Linked DNA regions of Homo sapiens. The protein of the gene in region 4 purifies or fractionates together with the protein of the main gene of each other region. This does not show direct contact. Each region holds a gene or a part of one and is shown on either strand. Other genes may lie near its edges. The genes, in order: HP1BP3, IKBIP, MCM10, ESCO2, CDC45 and MACROH2A1.

Region 1 (3,500 bases), on a different chromosome or scaffold from region 4:
GCAATTATTATTTCTGTTATTCCTTTTTGTTTTCAGACAGGGTCTCACTCTCACCGAGGCTGGAGTGGTGAGATCGTAACTCACAATAGCCTCAACCTCCCAGGCTCAAGCGGTCCTCCTGCCTCTGCCTTCCAAGTACCTGGGACTAGAGGCATGTGTCACCAAACCCTGCTGATTTTGTATTTTTTGTAGAGAAGGGGTCTTGCTATGTTGCCCAGGCTGGTCTCGAACTCCTGGGCTCAAGTGATCCTCCCAACTAAGCCTCCCAAGGTGCTGGGACTACAGGTGTAGGCCACCATCCCTAGCCTCATTTTTGCTGTTTCAGTAGTAGGATTCCTTACCTCTTTTTCATGTTCAGTGCTACATGATTTCAAGCACAAGCAGCCCCCCAAAAAATATCCAATTAAGAGCAAAGTAAGCTAGAAAAAAGTTACACTATCTTAATGGCACCAGCATTTTCGAAACCTAGCCTCAGATAATTCAACTAGGTTAAACTTAAGGAATTTCATCATCATGAAACTTATTTTTAACAAAAAAGGCACAAAAAGCCTAAATGTTACTAACTGTAGACTTAAAGCTAATACACAATGAAATGATCTTACTACTAACAATTGTGTAATACCTGTTTGATGACTCCTCTATTTAATTCTCTTTTCAGTGCTTGTTTAAGGAGATAACCCCTTCTCTCCAGCTCCAGAGAAGGATACTTATGGATGATGTATTTTCGAATAGCAACCACTGATGCACCACTCTTCTGGAAGCATGCCTAGAAAAGATTTATTAAACTAGTTGTTTTTTTTTATTAGATAGAGCCTGACATATATTTTCAAAATAAATTATTTTGGAAGTGAATTTGATGATAGATGACAAAAACGGTAGGGAAGAATGAACTTCAGAAGACTTCAGTTCATAATGACTACAGAGAAGTAACAGAATTACTAAATATTTCTACTACAATTTTAAATTGTTCAAAACAGCCTAAGAGACCATACTGAACACGAACAACATTCTATGTATAATGAAGAACCTCTTTCCATTTTAATTCCATTCTGTATTTAGAAGATGAATCTTTGGCATCAAAATGAGAAAAGCAGAACAAACCTATCACTTACAGGATCACAGATCTGTCCCATTTTAAGGCACGAGCTTAAGGAATGAGCATGCCAGGACATTTCCCTGAAGGCTCTGTATGAATGTCAGCAGAAAGAAGAATCAAAGATAATCTGAATAAGTGGCATAAAAATGGGTTTACAGATGGCAAAGTGCTGAAGGAGAGTTTTGGGTAATAGTGAAGGTGTTCTATTTGAATTTAATGTGCCCTCTTCCATTTCCATCCTATTTTACTTATACTCCATTTGACTAATGCACCTGGAAGAATTAAGTAGCTCATTATGTCACAAAGGCAGCAAATACTTAATTTTTTTCAAATGCTTAAAATTTTGTTTTCCAACTGGTCACTGACTTGAAATCAAATACTTTAAATTTTGAAACACACAAAAGTAGCATCTGTCATTTATCTAATGAGCTAGTCCATCAATTTTGTACTGCCACAGTGTCTATTAAATCAATGTAGCACTTATTCATTCTCATTGGATAAGAACTTCGTTGAATGTTTTTATACATTTTGACAACAAAGAAAAATAACTCACAGGTAGATGGTCCAGAAAAGATTGCACAACACGAAACAAGTTGTATTAATATGGGTCATGTAATTCAAGTCTATGTCTCTGAACTATTAATGACCTACTGAGGTTTACTCCTGATCTTAAAAGAAAACACAGAGCAAAGAAAATCAAGCAGAAAAGAACACTAATGCTGAAACAAATAATCTTTTGCTCCACCAATCCGACAGTGAGATGGTAGTAGACATCATGATTCCTGTTCAATACAGAAAATGGTATCCATGGTCTGAAACAATAATTTGTCATATTGCATGGAATACACATTATCTATATAAAATCAATCATCTCCATAAATATGCACAATTATATTCAAACCATTCTTTAAGCCAAATTGATATTGTTTTAATTTTTTATTTCACTATTTTAAAGTTTCAGCCCTTTTTCCATCCTCACTATGATGCTGCTCCTTCAAACCCAGGCTGAGTGGTCATCAAGTGAAATCCTTGAAGAAAGGCTATACAAAGAACAGAGATTTCACTACAGTGAGGTAATCTAGACCAATAAAGTTTTCTTAATGAGGTGAGAGCATAAGAAGTCTTGAAGGAGTAAAGGGAGAAGTCTGAAGGCAAACCCTTTTTCCAGTTTATGTGTTAGTGCTATCTTCTCATATTCTGAGAATGACAACCAGGCTGCTCCTTTTCGTACACATCCCCCCTTTTCTGGTTAAAATCATCTGTATCCCTGTCTCCCCAGTCCTGCCTCAGATCCTAACAACAGGGTCCCTGAAAGATGGGTCTGTTCTAACTCCTCTTATCATCTGATCATATGAACTAAACAAGGCAAAATTAAATGAAAAGACTTATACAATAAAGGCAATGTCAAATTAGAAGATAACCTTTAAAAATTAAAATAGGAAAACTACATCTAATGAAAGTCAATGAAATCATAAATCTATGTAAGGAGGATAATTTTTGTAAGCATTTTGGAATGTCTAGGTAATAAAGCAGTGTTTATTAACAGGGTTCAGGTGTGAAAGATAACCACTACCAAGATCACTTAGCTTTAGAAATGAACCTAGAGATATTTTTTAAACAAAAATTCTCAATATTTTTCAGTTACTGAGTCACAATTAGATTTATAAGGGCAAGGACTTTGCTAGCCTTAGTTAATTCACCACTAGCAGGGGCGCCCAACAGAGGAAGGTAGTCCTTAAATGTTTGTTCAATGAATTAACATTTTCAGCCTTCAAATAAAAACTGTACTTAATCGATAAACTGCATTTAAAAATTCTAAAGTTAAAATATTTGCTATATTAAATATAATTTTTTTAAAAAAATTAACAGTGTTCACCAAATGTGATTATATTAGAAAAACATGAACTTATAATGACTTTCCTCTCTTTAAAACTCCTTTAGGAAGCAGAACAAGATTTATGATGTCTAGACAGATATATGCCATTTTCAAATAAGAAAAAAATGAACATAATAAATCTAAGATGAATTGCTTGAAATAAAAACTTGCCTTAATGGCCTCAGTTAAGATTGCATCCATCTTGGGACGTGGGGAAGAAGCCATCGGTGTTTGTTTCTGGGCCCTGGCTAGCTGGCTGGCAGAAAGGGTAGCCCAGGAAGGAATTGTTTTTTTCACTTTCTTCTCCTTTTCTTTAGACTGATCTTTCTCACTTTAAAACAAAGAATTGTTATTATAGAAGATAAGCTCTCTAGAAAGACGTATAAAGTCAGAAGGAGGAAAAGACCAGGGAGGGATAAAAATTAATGCTTTAATTTATTTACAGGCTAAGATGACATGTACCATAAGCAAAATTTTACAAAATAAATCTTCTTTAAAAACTGGGTACTATAAATGAATTAAAAAGGT
Region 2 (3,500 bases), on a different chromosome or scaffold from region 4:
AAGCTCCGCCTCCTGGGTTCACGCTATTCTCCTGCCTCAGCCTCCCGAGTAGCTACGACTACAGGCGCCTGCCACCACGCCTGGCTAATTTTTTGTATTTTTAGTAAAGACGGGGTTTCACTGTGTTAGCCAGGATGCTCTCGATCTCCTGACCTTGTGATCCACCTGCCTTGGCCTCCCAAAGTGCTGGGATTACAGGCGTGAGCCACCACGCCCGGTATTTTTTTTTTTTTTTAGATGGAGTTTTGCTCTTGTTGCCCAGGCTGGAGTGCAATGGCACGATCTCGGTTCACTGCAACCTTTGCCTCCTGGGTTCAAGCGATTCTCCTCCTCAGCCTCCCAAGTAGCTGGGATTAAAGGCACCTGCCACCACGCCCCACCAATTTTTTAATATTTTTAGTAGAGATGGGGTTTCACCATGTTGGCTAGGCTGGTTTTGAACTCCTGACCAGTGATCTGCCCGCCTTGGCCTCCCAAAGTGCTAGGATTACAGGCATGAGCCACTGTGCCCAGCCCCAAGGTGGTCTTGAATTCCTGGCCTCAAGTGATCCTCCCCTCAGCCTCCCAAAGCGCTGGGATTACAAGTGTGGGTCAACATGTCCAGCCTAGATGCAGCTTTTATCAGTTTCTTTTGACAGATTTTCATGTGGTAGGTACTGGTTTAACTCATGCAAAGATGAGTAAAGCACTGCCCTTGTTCACAATTCACAGCCCACCAAATAAGATGGTGTGATATCTGTAATAGATGCATGCACAAGAAATATTTTAGAGGAGGACAAAGTGAAAAATTTAGAACAAGATCTTTGATCTCTACTGTTTTTCACAAGGCCATGATTGGGTAATATCTAGAAAATAGGTGTTTTTATGCTGAAATGTAGGCGAAACAAGAGTCGTCTATAAAAAGTATTTTAAAACTGAAATGTAGAAGAGTTGACTGATAAAAAGCAGTGGAGTAGAAGAGAGAAGTGATAGTAATTAGAAGTTGCAAAATAGCAGGAGGTGTGAAAAGAGGTATGAAAATAGAAAAAAGCCATTGCCAAAGTGACAATAGATCACAATCAGTGCAGAGTGTATAAACTGCACAATTGGTTATACTCAGTGATGTGACTCGTATAGGTGTACTTGAGATGTCACTCTAAAATTGGAGTTTATTCTTCATTATGGGTGGAAGCCCAAAAAGCTATCTCAATCTTCAAAACAACAAATCAACATCTGTTTATACAGGATTTGAAATGAGCAAGCATAAAAGAATTGTCTTGGATCCAATACCATTTTGTCTACTTTAACTCAATTCTTTAGGCTCAGAAAAAAACACTTGAAATTCTTTGCATATTGAGTCATCAAAACGCAATGGAGCAGAACCATAAGTACCTGCCTAAACACAGTCCTGAGACAAGTGGTTCAAAAGCTTTGCTACATATTGTAATAACCTGGCAGCTTTAACAAATCTGATGCCTGGGTCTCACAAAGATTCTGATTTAATTGGCTTGGGATGTGGCTTGGATGTTGGAAACTCAACAGCTTCTCAGGTAATCTAAGTGCACAGCCAAACTTAGAACCATACTGACTGACCATGTTTTGTGAAATTCATTTCCACTGAAAGGCAATCATTTAAAGATCCCAAGGATTAATGGAGAGGTGAAAGACTTTTCTGAGTAAATGCAGTTATCTGAACTTTGTGCATCCTTGCAAAAGTGGTAATGCTTTGAATTCATAAATGGCATCATTAGGCTAACCGTAGCTACAAAACTGTCCAAAGCTAAATTAGACAAATGTTTACAATACTGGAGGAAATACATTTCTTTTGATGATGCTGGCTAATTTCTATTATACGGGATCCCAGGTTACATTATTAGCACAGATTGACTTTTCTCCTGTGTTTAAATTAATAGGAACCTTTAAAGCTTCTGGTTATTAGAAAACACTATTATCCTAATTCTCTGAGATGGAAGGGTGAACATAATTCTTTTTTCATTGGCTGTTTCATTTCTGGCTTTTAGGATTTTTTTTTTTTCCCCCAGAGTATTGGATATCTAAGACCAGCAGATAGAGACCTTATTAAGAAAGAGACCACCCTAAAGAAATAAGAGTTGCCCTCCTCACGCCTTCCTGTCCCTCCCTGCCAGGGGGGAAAAAAAAAAAGTAAAAGAAGAAACACAGTTCATTTCAGGGACTAGTTTTATTATCCAATACTCCACCATAGATCTATACTATAGATTAGCGAGTTTATTCAGAATGAAATCATTATTATAAGAGACTTTCGTATGAAGGTTGATTCATTACAAAAAATACATTAATGAACTTTCTCAGAACTTCTTTTCAAATTCAAGCTTTAAACACAACCTGTGTCATGTTAGTGGAAATATCATCTCTGATAATTAGTAGTTTTTTTTGATTAGCCTCTTACTAAAATAAAAAAAAATTCATCCTTGCTACATGTGAACGGTGCATATAAGAAAAAAGTACAAAGCTGACTCAGCACTAGTGATGAAAAAAATGAAGTGATATGTGCTGTGCTGCGTTAAAATATATTTTATTTTTCCCTTATTTGTGCCAGACACTATTCTAAGTACTTGATAAATATTAATTCATTTAACATTAAAGAAGATGATTGATTTTTCTTTCTTTTTGTTTTTTTTGAGATGGAGTCTCACTCTGTCACCAGGCTGGAGTGCAGTGGCACGATTTTGGCTTACTGCAACCTCTGCCTCCCGAGTTCAAGTGATTCTCTTGCCTCAGCCTCCCGAGTAGCTGGGACTACAGGCGTGTGCCAACACACCCAGCTAATTTTTGTATTTTTAGTAGAGATGGGGTTTCACCATGTTGGCCAGAATGGTCTCGATCTCTTGACCTCATGTTCCGCCTGCCTCAGCCTCCCAAAGTGCTGGGATTACAGGCGTGAGCCACCGCGCCCGGCTTTTTTCTTTCTTTCCTTTTTTTGAGACAGGGTCTCGCTCTGCTGCCTAGGCTGGAGTGCAGTGGCATGATCTTGGCTAACTGCAACCTCCACCTCCCAGGTTCAAGTGATTACAGGCGTGAGCCACCGCACCCAGCCTAGATGACTGATTTTCTAGAAGTCAAGAAAATATGCTGAGAAAGCTGCTTCAGATCTGAAAAACTAAGCTTTCAAACTGGCATCCATGTTAGGGTATAAGGTCCTTTATTTCCTTTTTATGAGTCAGGGGCATATTCTAGTGAGAGCAGTTCCCAGTCTTCCCATTTAGATGAGAGTGAAAAACAAGCAATTAGGGTCTGCTAAAGGGTATACCTTCAAGTAGAAGGAAGAAAAGAACTATAAGTAATTCTGGACTTGGGGATTTCTATTTCTAGGATCTTGGCCTTTTGTTGGGGATTAATATCGAATGGAGGCAACGAATCATACTGATTAGGTGGGTGACTGGACTGCCTTAGCTCTGCCATTTACTAAGCTGTATAACCACTTTGGGCAAGTTAAATAACTTTGATGTTTCCTCATCTGTGAAGTGGGGATAATACCTTAT
Region 3 (3,500 bases), on a different chromosome or scaffold from region 4:
CAATACAAAATACTTGTTATTAAAAAGGGTCCTTGGGTGTGATGGGGTTAACTACTGATTTAGAGCATTTGAAATGCCAATATAAAAATACTGGAATGGGAAAACTCTTTTTGCATATTGCAAGGCAGAAAATAGCAGCAGTGTAGAGCCATTTAAACATAATTTCACAGCCATAACCAAATGCAAACATTTTTATAATATTGATATCTATTTAAGTCATGTTAAATCAAATGATATTCTTCAGTAAAGAGACAAGGACAAAGCTAAAATTTATTAGAAATTCTCCTGTTCTTCAAAGCAAACTCAAACAAACTGACATATACCTACTTTTAGATTTATGTAAAAAACAGATTCTTGGCTGGGTACGGGCATGGTGGCTCACGCCTGTAATCCCAGCACTTTGGGAGGCCAAGGCTGGAGGATCACTTGAGGTCAGGAGTTAGAGATCAGCCTGGCCAACACGGTGAAACTCTGTCCCTACTAAAAACACAAAAATTTGCTTCGTGTGGTGGCAGGCACCTGTAATCCCAGCTACTTGGGAGGCTGAGGCAGGAGAATCGCTTGAACCTGGGAGGCGGAGCTTGCATTGAGCCGAGATGGCGCCACTGCACTTCAGCCTGGGCCACAGACTGAGACTCTGTCTCAGAAAAACAAAATAAAACAAACAACACATTCTTGGTCCTACAGCTAGCACCTTGGCTTTGAAGGACATCGGACATCAACACCATCCTTGAGCTTTTGGGCTCTTACCTCTTTCAGGATGCCTGTGTGTTTTGATTTTGCTTTTAGGATTTTCTGAAATTCCTCAGATTCCAGATAGGCAAGTTGTTCTCTCCTTTTTTTCCTGGCAGGCTCCAATTCATCCTCAGCTAGGGCACAAGGAACAAACATTAGCAGCGACCAAGAAATTTCAGAAAGCCAGTGCGCCTCATCAACTCTACTCCCTCCCACTCCCTCCTCCTCTGCCTACCAGCCCTTCAAACTTGACCTACCCCCGCTGGTCCCAGCAGGGAAAAGCTCTCAGAGGTGAGCCAAGAAGCTGAGCCTAGAATGTGGGGTGGTGGCAGATTTTACCACTAAATAGAATCTCTTTTTCACCTTCAAATAGGCAGCTGACGATAGTAACAGATAACAACAGTGTAAATAATGTTGACAATTATGTTAAAATGATATTGCCAACTTCAGAGTTTTAAAAATAAAGATATGGCAATTTAAAACAAAGGAATTCTAGTTCTGTCAAAGTAAATCTTTATGCTAATATATATATGTACAAAGATCCAATGAGCAATCCTATTCCCAAGTATTCAAATTGTGCCCAATTTCATTCCAATTTAATGTAATTATAAAAAAATCAGTTCCAGCTCACGTCTGTAATCCCAGCACTTTGGGAGGTCAAGGCGGGCGGATCATGAGGTCAAGAGATCGAGGCCATCCTGGCCAACATGGTGAAACCCCATCTATACTAAAAATACAAAAAATTAGCTGGGCGTGGTGGCGCGCGCTTGTAGTCCCACTTACTCGTGAGGCTGAGGCAGGAGGATCGCTTGAACCCAGGAGGCAGAGGCTGTAGCGAGCCAAGACTGCGCCACTGCACTCTAGCCTGGCAACAGAGCAAGACTCCATGAAAAAAAAAAAAAAAATCAGTTCCACCCATAGAAATTCTATTTAGGTATTCTATATAGGAGGAAATGGAAGTAATTGCTTGATATCTGGGTGCTGGTTTGGGTTTAGAACATATTTCCCTTAGAAACAGTTTCTCTTTCCCACTGTTAACTGTGAAACTGCAGTACCTTGAGAAGAAAACATGGTGTTTTTTTCTACACGTTCCTTCACCTCCAGGATGTCCTGAGGGTCCTTTTGTTTCTTCTTAATGCTGTTTGGGTTTGTTTTTGTAAGAACCTGGCCTTTTGCCCTTAATTTGGTGATAGCAGCTAACTAGAAAAAAGGGAATGAGAGGGAGGTAAAGATCTAAAAGATGACAGAGGCACTTATAGACCTGGATCCCTTTTTTATTAGTAACCAGTGAATTCTGGCTGTTCTCTGACAGAAATTGGCAGAACATATCTTAATTTTACTTAGTATTATTAACACAATTACTAGAATATAATAGCATGGGAGACAGGTCTATATGTTGATGAATAAAATCTTAGTTTATTTAAATATAACAAGTTTGACATCAGCAAGACTGCAGGCTTCCAGATCCATAAAGGAGCCACATCACCATTTTGGAAGTTTTAGAATCAGAGAGAATTAAGATAAAGTTCCAGCCAGCTCTGCCACGGACTAGCTTGTAACCCAAGGAAAATTACTTAATTTTTCAAGTATAAAATGGAAATGGGGCTTGGCATGGTAGCTCATTGTAAACCCAGCACTTTGGGAGGCTGAAGCAGGTGGATTTCTTGAGCTCGGGAGTTTAAAACCAGCCTGAGCAACACAGTGAGACTTCATCTGGGCATGGTACAAAATTAGCTGGGCATGGTAGTGCATGCCTGTAGTCCCAGCTACTCAGGGGACTGAGATGGGAGGATCACCTGAGCCCAGGGAGATGGAGGTTTCAGTGAGCTGTGATTGCACCACTGTACACCAGCCTGGGAGACAGAGTGAGACCCTGTCTCAAAACAAACACACAAAAAAAGAGAAGGAAATGATGATATAGCATTGACCTACCTTTGAAGGTCATGGTTGTATGGATGAAATAAGATAATATCTGCAAAGTATGAATCTTTACATAGCAAATACATTCCTGGCCGGGCGCAGTGGCTCATGCCTGTAATCCCAGCACTTTGGGAGGCTGAGGCAGGTGGATCACTTGAGGTCAGGAGTTCGAAACCAGCCTGGCCAACATGGTGAAACCCTGTCTCTTCTAAAAATACAAAAATTAGTCAGGCATGGTGGTGGGCACCTGTAATCCCAGCAATTCGGGAGGCTGAGGCAAGAGAATTGATTGAACCCAGGAGGCAGAGGATGCAGTGAGGCGAGATCGGACTACTGTATTCCAGCCTGGGTGACAGAGCGAGACTCCATCTCAAAAAATATATATATAAATAAATAAATAAACATAGTAAATACATGGCACACACATATCACAAGTACTGAGTAATATGGACATGTGCCATGGTTATTGTAGGTATTCCTGTTGTTATTATTATAGGTAAGGTTTTGGCATACAGCAAGCTTTGCCCTTCATTTGGCTGCAGCTGCTAACTTAAGGGAAGAGAGAGGCTCGATTGGGGCACTCAGGAAGTGGGCAGGTGGGGCTCTGGGTGCCCTACCCCTACTTCAGCCGCAGCAACTCAGCTTTCACCTGTCATGGGACTGGACTTTTGTGTAAGATTTCTTTTAAAGGATTCTTGGTTAGGCACAGTGGCTCATGCCTGTAGTCCCAGCACTTTGGGAGGCTGAGGTGGGACTGCTTGAGTCCAGGAGTGCAAGACCAGCTTGGGCAGCAAAGGGAGGCCCCCATCTCTACAAAAAATACAAAAATTAGCCAAGGCGTGGTG
Region 4 (3,500 bases):
TATGCTTGACAAGACCACAGATGGGTGCAGTCTTACAACTATTTTAATCTCAACCCCCAGCATAGTGCTTTGGCATGTGGCCCTAGTCTTTGAATGATACTGAAATATTATGGTACTGAAAAGGGTTTAAAAACCTTGGTAAGATGTCAGTGAGCATAATGGGGAAGGTGGTTAACTTGCCTTCAGGCTAAGGCAACTAACTGAATAAGCAAAGGTGCAGAGAATGGCAAAAAAATCTGGTATAACTGACTGATTGGAAAAAATGAGGTTGAAATATTAGAAATAAATTTAATAAGATCCATGACAAAACTATAAAATGTTCCTGAAAGACATCAAAGATATGAATCAATCAGAGGTATACTAAGTTTCTAAGTATACACTAGGTTTATACTACAGTATATACTAAGTTTATATAATAGTATGTGCTATACTAAGTTCCTAAGTTATACTAAGATTTTTTTTCTCTAGAGAAAATGGCATTAGTTTGACTAGTTTGAATAAAAATTCGAATAGGTTTTTCATTTGGGGGGAATGTGATAGGCTTTTTAATTGAAAGAGTAAATGTGCAGAAAAAGTCAAGACATTTTTTACAGAGAAGGATGAAAGGGAACTTACCTAACTATACAGTATGAAGCTACATTTATAAAAGTATGGCACTAGCACAGGAACAAATGGATGGTGCAGAAGTGTCCAATAACAAACCCATTTATATGTGGGAATTTGGTATGCATTAAACGTGGCATTGCTAATCAGTGTGGAAGATAAACTAGTCAAACAGTAATGTTGGCACACTTTGCAGTCCTTTAGGAAAAATATAAGGATCCATCTCTAACACTATGTCTTGAAAAAATTCCAGTGGATTAAATGTCTAAATATAAAATTTATAGCTATAAATTTTTTTAAATATAGGAAAAACTTACTAATTTTGGGACTGAGATGATGTTCCTGACTTAAGAAACCAAAGGTCACAAACTAGCTAAATAAAAATGTTTTCTTTGTAGCAATATACACCACAAAAAGGTTAAAAAAATCCAAGTAATGGTATTTGCTTGTATATGCAGAAAATATCTCTGAAAGATATATAGATGAATCTGTTAATGCTGGATGCCTATAGATAGGGGAACGAGGTTTCTGGAAGGGGTATGGAGAAACACTTTTCACTGGATATACTTTTGCATTCTGTGAAATTTGAATCATGTGAAAGTATTACTATATCAAAAATATAAATTCAAACCTTAAAAAAAGGGACAGGGAGAATGTATTTGTAACCCAGGAATGATATTCAAAATATATAAAGGATAACATGCCCAGTATGTTTCCACAAATTAAAGAAAGAAATCCCGTATGGTATAGTCTGGCTTCATCAGAGAATGTGGCTTATTCCAGCGGCAGGAGCTTAGAGCTGGAGAGGGAATGTGTCATGTGACAAGGTGGGCAGGGGCCAAATATGAAGAGATCTGTCAGCCAAGGTAAGGAGTCTGGGTTTTATTCCTAGTGCAACAGAAAGCTGTCAAATTTGAAGCAGACAATGTCAGAACCTATGTTTTAGAAAGAACTTTCTGGCTGATGTAGAGATCAGATCAGAGAGGGCAAGAATTTAAACTACACACATACACACTTTCTCTTTTGTATGTATTTTATATGCACATATATAGGAAAGGTTGAGGCCAGATTAAAGAGCACCAAACTTCTGGTGGGAACTTTTTCTTTCCAGAAGTATGTAGAATCATACTAGACTTATGTTTCATCTATGGCTTTTTTTTTTTTTTTTTGAGATGGAGTTTTGCTCTTGTCACCCAGGCTAGAGTGCAGTGGCACAATCTTGGCTCACTGCAACCTCCACCTCCTGGGTTCAGGCGATTCTCCTGCCTCAGCCTCCCGAGTAGCTGGGATTACAGGCACCCGCCACCACGCCTGGCTAATTTTTTGTATTTTTAGTAGAGACAGGTTTTCGCCATGTTGGGCAGGCTGGTCTCAAACTCCTGACCTCAGGTGATCCACCCACCTCGGCCTCCCAAAATGCTGGGATTACAGGAGTGAGTCACTGCACCCGGCCTAGACTTATGTTTTAAAACGTTATTTCTGGTAGCACTATGGGAACCCAGAAAGCAAGCCATTTCAATAAACAGGCTAAAAATATTGTGAAGGCATTAACCGTGGCAATAAAAATAGGGAAAAAGGAATGTATCTGAGTAGCAGGTACAATCATAAAGATAGGGCCAATGATAGGATGTGTTTGGACTTGAAAGGTGTTTAATAAATGGGTGGGACCTCTCCTCTCAGAAAAAACCTGGAGAAGTCATGGGAAGGCTATTTTTTTCCTAAGGCTACCTATAAAGACAACACTATAGTGGGAAGAGAGTATCTCTGCAGTCTCTGAATTTTGTATATCTGGACTGTTCAGCTCTGCTCAGAATGCAGTGTTTACAAAATATTTATCTTAAATTGAGATAGTAAGCTTGAAACATCATCATTAAAAGTTAACTTTTCCGGCTGGGTGGTAGAGGTGGTGGAAAAGAAATGTCTCTTTTAGTTTTACTTCTAGAACAAACTGAAAGACTATGTTTTGGCTCACCACATATTTGATTCCTTCCAGAAACCTGTGGTGATGCTGTACATGCTGCATTTCATCTTCAGGGTTGGAAGCAGTATATATCATACCACAAGACTTGCACACAGTAGCCCCAAAATGTTTCTGACCAGCGTCCTATAATTGGGGGGTAAAAAAAGAAACCCATTTAAATATAGCACAAATAGCTCTAAATTAAGTTCCTATAACCATTCATTCAAATTTCACCTAATTTTTTTTTTCCTGCTGACACAAGTGAAAAACTAAATGAAAATCTGGTTACCATATCCTCCTTCCCTCCCCCAAGACAAAATGAAATGAGATCAGGCCAGGCACAGTGGCTCACGCCTGTAATCTCGGCACTTTGGGAGGCTGAGGTGGGTGGATCACTTGAGCCAAGGAGTTAGAGACCAGTCTGGGCGACATGGTGAGACTCCATCTCTTTGGGGGGGGAAAAAAAAGAGACAAGAGACCTAAAAATGCAATAAATTGATGAAAGGGAATTATTTGAATGGACAGTGTAAAAACCAAAGATTTTTTTATTTTTACAAGATTATTTACTAGACTCATGGTTCTAAGAAAGAATAAGATTAAATTGTGGAAATTACAGCTAAAATGAACAACGGAACTTTTTAATGAAACCCTTAAAGACCTGAAAAAGCCTTATTTCAAACAGGGAGGGCAAAAATTTTAGGACTTCTATATTAATTATACAATATTTTTCCTTAAGCAGCTAAGAATATTAAATTATTTTAAACAATATTAAAATTATTTGACCCAAGAGTTGACAAAAAATAGAGTGCAGGAAAAGCACAGATAAATTCAAGAATATTCAATGTCACCACCTACAACTCCCATTCTGTCACATAAAACATTGCTTAATGACATTGAAAATACCAAGTTCTGAACTGTCTAATACAGGGGTTGGCAA
Region 5 (3,500 bases), on a different chromosome or scaffold from region 4:
TGGAAACAAACCACATGCCCATCAACTTATGAATGGATAAATGAAATAGAATATATCCATCCAATGGAATATTATTTATAATAAAAAGACACTGGCCGGGCATGGTGGCTGATGCCTGTAATCCCAGCACTTTGGGAGGCCGAGGCAGGTGGATCAAGAGGTCAGGAGTTCAAGACCAGCCTGAACAACACGGTGAAACCCCGTCTCTATTAAAACTACAAAAATTAGCCAGGCTTGGTGGCATGCGTTTGTAATCCCAGCTACTCGGTAGGCTGAGGCAGGAGAATTGCTTGAACCCAGGAGGCGAAGGTTGCAGTGAGCCGAGAGCGTGCCACTGGACTACAGCCTGAGCGAGAGTGAGACTCTGTCTCAGGTGGCGGACGAGGGAAAAGACATATAATCCCGATACATCCTACAATATAGATGAGCCTTGCAAATATGATGCTAAGTGAAGAACCCGGTCACAAAGAACCATATCTTATATGATCCCATTTGTATGAAATGCTCAGAACAGCCAATTCATAAAGACAAAAGGGAGACTGGTGGTTGCCAGAGGCTGGGAGGATCTCTCTGGGGCAACAAAAATGCTCTAAAATTAGATAGTGGTGATTGCTGCACAACCTTGCAAAACCTAACTGCAACCTACTAAAAGTCATTGCAGGCTGGGCACAGTGGCTCATGCCTGTTCCTCCCAGCACTTTGGGAGGCTGAGGTGAAAGGATTGCTTGAGCCTAGGAATTTGAGACCAGTCTGGGCCACATAGTGATACATCTTTACAAAAATTTTTAAAATTAGCAAGGCGTGGTGGCATGCACCTGTTGTCCCAGCTACTCAAGAGGCTGAGGTAGGAAGATTGCTTGAGACTGGGAGGTCAAGGCTGCTGTGAGCTATGATCATGCCATTGCATTCCACCCTGGGCAACAGAGCGAGACCCTGTCTCTAAAAAAATAACAATAAAATAAATAAAAGCCATCACATTGTACATTTTAAATGGGTGAATTGTATGGCATGCAAATTGTATCTCAATAAAGCAGTGGAAAAAAAAGTGTGCTTGGGAGCAGAACCAGGAAATCCCAGAAAGCAGGCCCCCATATATACATATGCATCTTTACCACTGCACAAAAGCAACAGAAGTGGCAGCTCTGTGAAGCCAGAAAAGCTGTCTGAATCATGCCTCCTCCTCCTAAAAAGTCAGGGAAATGAAATTTATACATAAAAAGCATGAGAGAAGTAGCAAAGTCAAATCCCCTCAAAGTCACTATTAGAAAAAAAGAGAATAAGGGACAGAATAACACCTCTCTGGATAATGAAAGTACACTAATGTGAAAGTTGCAGATCCCAGGATGAAATCACTTTTTGACAGGCCCAAACAAATTAAAGCTGGGAAAGCACCAAGGAGAGCTCCTGCTTGCATGTCTGGAATAAAGACTCAAAGACTTTCTAAATAACCCCACAAGAAATCCCTTCTTTAGGACTGCAACAATTCAGATAAGATGCTCTTAAAATATAACACTTGCCCAGTAATGCATCTTCACCACTGAACTGACGCCAACTCTGGCTCTGAGTCTCTGAAACCAATGAATTGTTTCCAAGCTAGCTTTCGTGAACTTCTCCTTTTGCCAATAAAAGTGTCCCCTTAGCCTCCTCTCTTTGGATGCATATTTGGCTTGCCATAGCTGTGCATCGCAGACACTATAATCCTCTTTTCTAATTCCCAAATAAATTCAGTGTATTTGGAGATATTTTTCTCTGATGTCTTTAGTCTGACACTAGACAGACATGCTAAAAAAAAGATCCAAATTGTCACATTCCATTTCAAAACAAGCGAAAAGACATGGAAAAATATAGGACATCTCAGGAAGTGAGATAAGAAAGAATTGGAAAATTAAAAAATTGAGAAATGACAACTATAAGATTAAACACAAGAACGAATATACATAACAAATAATGCCTTTTGTTAAGAGATACAAAAGGTAAAAAAAGAGAAAATTTTAAAAATCAAAAAGAAAAAAAAGCCAAAAAAGATTCAAGAGAAAGTGACAAATACTGAAGAGGGGCAGGTAATGTGTCAGGTGCACACCACACTGGCACTGTGATTCCAGTTCACCCAAGCAGTTTCTGCAGGACACAGTCACTCCCACAGCCCTGGGGTCCCCGTAACTGACCTCCCTGGGCAGTGTGAGAACCAGTGGTGGCCCCATGAGGCAAACCCACAGCCCTCCTGCTACCTGGAGAGGCTGTCCAGAGCCTGGATGAAGTGATCTGTCCCTGAGCCATCCTTCTCGGGGCTCTCCATCAAAGACATGGTGGCAAAGACCACGTCGCTGGCCAGAAACTTGTGCTTGAACCCAAAATGAATGCTGAAAGTCTGCACGCGCATGTCCTTCATCCTGTCATGGGAGCAAACACAGCTGTCACCCTCAAATTGTGGGCAAGCTCTCACTGCCAGGCAGGCCAACAGATGTGCTAATGTCCCTCACAGGCCCAAGTCAATGCTTCCAGCACAGCCATGCTGCTCAGAGGATGAGGCAGGTCAGAACGTCCAGACATACCAGCCCTGCAGCCCAGAGTGGCCGGGTGCCTTCTTGTCAACAGCTTTATGGCTGGCTTAGGGGGTGTGTGGGGTCCTCTCTCACACCTTAGCATGCCAGCTGGCTGGGGTGGGAGAAGCCAGGGGCCTCCAGGAGTGCCCATGGACTTGGTCGGGCAGAGTTCACCTGAACCTGGCCCTGTGGCCCATTTGCTGTCTCCAGTGAAACAGACTGGGGTCGACCTCACAGGTCCCACAGCAGCCCTAGGATCCAAGGATCCTAGGATCCTAAACCTCACAAGCTTGAAGAAGTCTTATTTTTAACCCAAAAAGAACTCAAGACTTCAGGAATGGCCAGACTCAGATAACACTCATTTGTACATTCTCGGGTTGTTGTTTTTTTTGCATTATTTTAGGAGCACGTTGGTTTTTTTTGCATTATTTTAGGAGCACAGTTAAAGTAGAACCCTTCACTTTAATGAACCTGGATGTAATGAAGATAAATCCAGAAAAATGTGTGTTTACCCAAATTTATTTGCAGACTCTTCAATCATTTCCCGCAAATTCTCCTTCAAGGAGATGTCCATGGCCTGGAACTTCTGCTTCACCTGCTTCAGGGGAAGACTGGAAAGAGCAAGCCCAAGCCACATGAGTGAGGTCACCACACACCGACAGGGTGGAAAGAAACCCAAACCAAGGGCAAGCGAGGATGTCCCCGCACCAGCATTCAGAAGATATTCTGGGATCTAGGGCAAGGAGCTTATGGCAGAACAGGCTGCATTTTATAACTAAGTTGGTCACAACAAAGCAGAGGGGCTTTTCCCTTGGGGGTGGCCAGGGCTGGCACTGCAGAGGCCCAGGCAGTCACTCACCCCATGTCTGCAAGGAACTCCTGGAGCCGCTTCTGTCCATGCACAGACCACAGCTTGAACCTGGCTGCGGTATAGCTGGTGTTGCACAGGCTGTCATG
Region 6 (3,500 bases), on a different chromosome or scaffold from region 4:
TCCATCAAAACTCAACTGAACGCAAACTCAACGTGTCAGAACATTTGCAGCCTCAAAATAATTGTTTTGGGTTTCCAACCCTTCTTCTTCAAGTCGACTGGTGTGCTAATTATCGACTTGCACACCAATATGATGTATTTGTCTCTACTATGATGTATTCTCTAAATCTCCCAAACCCAATTCAGGACAAAGCTACTAGGAAAGCAACTGCTTTAAATGATCTGCTAAGCAACCTGACCAGCATCTCCACTCTGCCATTGTCTTCTCCCTGCTGAGGATGGCCTCACTGTGTGAATAACGGATCCTGTTTATTTGTGGCAGAATTAGATTAGTTTTTAAGGAACTGTGTTTTTCTTTTCCTAGAAGAGGGGCCCCTTTCTAGCTATACATCTCCACCAAAGACTTGCCTTTCCCTTGCCAGATCTAAGGACACAGGCCTGGGGTCTGCCACAAACTGCAAAGTACCATGTCTCCCAGAGCATGTTCCAGAACCCCTGTCCACAGATGCTCTGCAAAGAAGGTTTCCAGGGCACTGGGTTTAGCTGCATGCTACGCTTCTATACAAGAGCACACCAGAGTCTCCACACCACTGCTAAAGTAAAACATCCAAACTTTTTGTATTTGGTTGGCTATTTCTGAAACTTTTTTTTTTTTTAAGGAATATCTGTCCAAGGGGTATGGTTTGTTATGGTCGTGTCATAGATACTGGAGAAGGAGCGATTTGTGGGTAGTGTCTCATGGTACAGTGGAAACAGCTCAGTCACAGGGTGTGAATTTGAGTCCTGGCTCTGCTTTGTGACTGGGCTTGAGAACTCTGGGCTGACCTATAAAAACCTGACATTGGGGGTTGAATTAAACCAGTGGGTTTGTCCCCATGAGAAGTCATGGCTAAACTATGCATAGAAAACGACTGGAAAGAAACATTAACAGTGACTATCTTTGCACAGTGGAACAGGAGTATGTTTTATTCACCTCTTTATACTTTCAAAAATATTTTAAAGCAGTTTCTAAAATAGCCCTTAAAATCAAGAACAAAAGTGTTATTGAAACAAGCAAAAATATCTTGAACCATGCTATACCTAATGGGTTTGCATCTGCTGTGGCTGAGGTTTCCCCAGCAGAGTTTGGTACATGGCAGCACCAGGCTGCCTACCAGGCCTTGTGCCAAGGGCTACCAGCAGGACTCAAGCTGGAACCCCGATGGGAAAGGACCCACAGGCTGGTCAAACAGGTGTTTTAAAGGGCCTGGGGAAAGGCCAGCTGCCCCTGGCTAGGTAGTTAAAACTGTGTATGCCTTCCCTTGTACAATGTGGGACTTTGGTGGAACTGCCTGGGAGAACTTCATAATTACTACCCTGTATGTCATGCCCCTTGCAGGTAAAACAGAAGTGGCAGAGCAGAGGTCAAAGGCACAGATCAGCAAAGGGAATCCTACTGGATCCTGAGACTAGCCTGGAAGGGGTGTCATTTGTCACTGGGAATAGAGGTGCACGGCCTGGTGGACCCTCCGAGAGAGCTTAAGATTCATTTTTAAAACAGAGGATTTAAAAGACACAATAGGCATTGGAATCGGGTAGTAAGAAGAGAAAACCAGAGCCCCAAGTGAGGAAGTGGGTGATCTGTCCTCACACAGTTGGTGGGGGAGCTGGGCCTCCCCACTGACTGGACTCTCAGGTCCTTAGGAGGTGCTCTGTCCTGCACACCCCAAATGACCACCTAAATTCAGGCCTGAAGCAGTAAGAAGTACCCTGCCTCCAGGTCTTAGCAATAATTCTCCCCACATCAGATGCCAAGTCGTTTTCTTCCCCTTATACCAGGGAAGGTGTAATTGGCAAATGAGAAATGTGTATTTATATGTTTCCTCTTACACACACAGATGGCTGAAGATTTTTAATTTGTATCTCTCACCAGCAGTTTTGCAGATGGCTCAGTATCACTCACTCTCAGCTCTTAGATGTACCAAACTCAGCTCCTATAATTTCTTAAAATTTGTGATCTAGACATCAAACATATAGGAGCTATTTTAAGTAATAAAAAAAAATGCAAAGGTGATTTTCCCAGACAACCTGCATGTGGTGAAACTCTAAGATGTAAAGCTACAGGCTGTCCTTGGCCTCCATCTTGAAGATGCGGCTGTGCTGCCACACACCTCTGAATTCTAAGCCCTCTCACAAAATGGCTTTCCTAATACTGCATGTGTCACAACCAGATAAGCACGGTGGCTTTCCCACCTCACCTCCAGCTACTTCCAAGGGCCCGTTCTTTTTCCGGAGTTCCAGGACAGCTTCCACAAACTCCTTGCCACCTTTCTTCTCCAGCGTGTTTCCTAGACAAGGACAGGGTGGGGTCAGGTTGCCATTCTGTGTCTCCGGCACACACAGACACTTAGCATGTCAGGTGATTACATACTTCAAATGATCTATTAAATTTCCATCAGGCTGCAAAACAGGAACTAAGCCTTGGCTAAGTTAATAAAGTAAAATTGAGAAGGGCTTTGTCATCACCAGTTACTACCCTCAAATTGCTGCTTCATCTGGCTGTCTCTGCTGCCCCTTATTTGGGTCTGACTCAGGGTGATCATGGATGTGCCAGAGATGTGAAAGAGACAGGACATGCTTGTTTTTTGCAAACATGCTTGTCCTGGATGCTTTTCATTGGCATGAGATACTAGCTGGTACTGGTTTCCAAGACTAATGCCTGCCTTAGGTTTTCTTCTCTGTCTCTGGGGAGAACCCCCAAGTAAGGAGGTTTCAGCAGCATACAATGCTCCCATCAATAAGCCAGCTCTCCTCCTGGCAGCAGGCCTAGAAGGAAGTGTTCATACCTGGCCACCTTTGGACCAGCATTATTACCATGCTTAGTTCCTGTTTTGCAGCTTTGGTGTCATATGCAAATACAAAATAAAAATGGCCTCAGACGGTATTTTCTTAATTACACTAATGATTCAGAATTGTTTTCAGTAAAGAAGGGCAACATCAGAAGCAGAGCTTAAAGATTAATCTGTGTTCTATAAAAAGCTTGGAAAGGAGGATGTCTAACTGCTCAGGACCAGATTTTTCACAAAAGCCAATGGAGATTGGGAGCAATGTGTTTTCTTCAATTAGGGCACTTGCTAAGTAATCAGTTCCTGCTGTGAAAACCAAGTTCCCAAACAAGATCACCAACACCTATGAGAACTCTGGGTTGATGCTCATGTGGGATAGCAAGTGGCAATCAAAGTTAGCAACAAGATCAGCCTTTCAAGTTTGGCCAGAATGGGGTCTGAGTCTTCCTTAAGCTCTGATTCCTCAGTTTTGCACATTTTAAAGTACTTTTCCTCACAAGAGGACAAAATACTCCCCTTAAGATTCACATCTGTCTTGGAAAATTCCAGGTGCACCTGGCACAATTCTGGTATGGGACGGTCAAGGTGCATCGGAATGCACCAGCCCAAATTCTCTTTGGAGTCACCCTGCGATGACCAGGGTTAATTATCTTAGTGAAACTTGCCTCCTTTGAAT

What was found.
Region 1: the proteins of ESCO2 (region 4) and HP1BP3 purify together in Homo sapiens (affinity purification with mass spectrometry, with the first as the bait; one large-scale study listed by BioGRID). This does not show direct contact.
Region 2: the proteins of ESCO2 (region 4) and IKBIP purify together in Homo sapiens (affinity purification with mass spectrometry; one large-scale study listed by BioGRID and IntAct). This does not show direct contact.
Region 3: the proteins of ESCO2 (region 4) and MCM10 purify together in Homo sapiens (affinity purification with mass spectrometry, with the first as the bait; one large-scale study listed by BioGRID). This does not show direct contact.
Region 5: the proteins of ESCO2 (region 4) and CDC45 purify together in Homo sapiens (affinity purification with western blotting, with the first as the bait; one study listed by BioGRID). This does not show direct contact.
Region 6: the proteins of ESCO2 (region 4) and MACROH2A1 purify together in Homo sapiens (affinity purification with mass spectrometry, with the first as the bait; one large-scale study listed by BioGRID). This does not show direct contact.

The regions. Positions count from the first base shown.
Region 1 is NC_000001.11:20,770,308-20,773,807, forward strand, and holds part of HP1BP3 (heterochromatin protein 1-binding protein 3), read right to left. Parts: intron 3,304-3,500; coding exon 3,144-3,303; intron 767-3,143; coding exon 623-766; intron 1-622. UniProt on the Homo sapiens protein: Component of heterochromatin that maintains heterochromatin integrity during G1/S progression and regulates the duration of G1 phase to critically influence cell proliferative capacity.
Region 2 is NC_000012.12:98,634,789-98,638,288, forward strand, and holds part of IKBIP (inhibitor of nuclear factor kappa-B kinase-interacting protein), read right to left. Parts: intron 1-3,500. UniProt on the Homo sapiens protein: Target of p53/TP53 with pro-apoptotic function.
Region 3 is NC_000010.11:13,196,058-13,199,557, reverse strand, and holds part of MCM10 (protein MCM10 homolog), read right to left. Parts: intron 1,936-3,500; coding exon 1,791-1,935; intron 870-1,790; coding exon 751-869; intron 1-750. UniProt on the Homo sapiens protein: Acts as a replication initiation factor that brings together the MCM2-7 helicase and the DNA polymerase alpha/primase complex in order to initiate DNA replication. Additionally, plays a role in preventing DNA damage during replication.
Region 4 is NC_000008.11:27,788,054-27,791,553, reverse strand, and holds part of ESCO2 (N-acetyltransferase ESCO2), read right to left. Parts: intron 2,708-3,500; coding exon 2,576-2,707; intron 1-2,575. UniProt on the Homo sapiens protein: Acetyltransferase required for the establishment of sister chromatid cohesion. Couples the processes of cohesion and DNA replication to ensure that only sister chromatids become paired together.
Region 5 is NC_000022.11:19,507,420-19,510,919, reverse strand, and holds part of CDC45 (cell division control protein 45 homolog), read right to left. Parts: coding exon 3,403-3,500; intron 3,155-3,402; coding exon 3,056-3,154; intron 2,391-3,055; coding exon 2,229-2,390; intron 1-2,228. UniProt on the Homo sapiens protein: Required for initiation of chromosomal DNA replication. Core component of CDC45-MCM-GINS (CMG) helicase, the molecular machine that unwinds template DNA during replication, and around which the replisome is built.
Region 6 is NC_000005.10:135,343,732-135,347,231, forward strand, and holds part of MACROH2A1 (core histone macro-H2A.1), read right to left. Parts: intron 2,327-3,500; coding exon 2,237-2,326; intron 950-2,236; exon of another isoform or gene 1-949. UniProt on the Homo sapiens protein: Variant histone H2A which replaces conventional H2A in a subset of nucleosomes where it represses transcription. Nucleosomes wrap and compact DNA into chromatin, limiting DNA accessibility to the cellular machineries which require DNA as a template.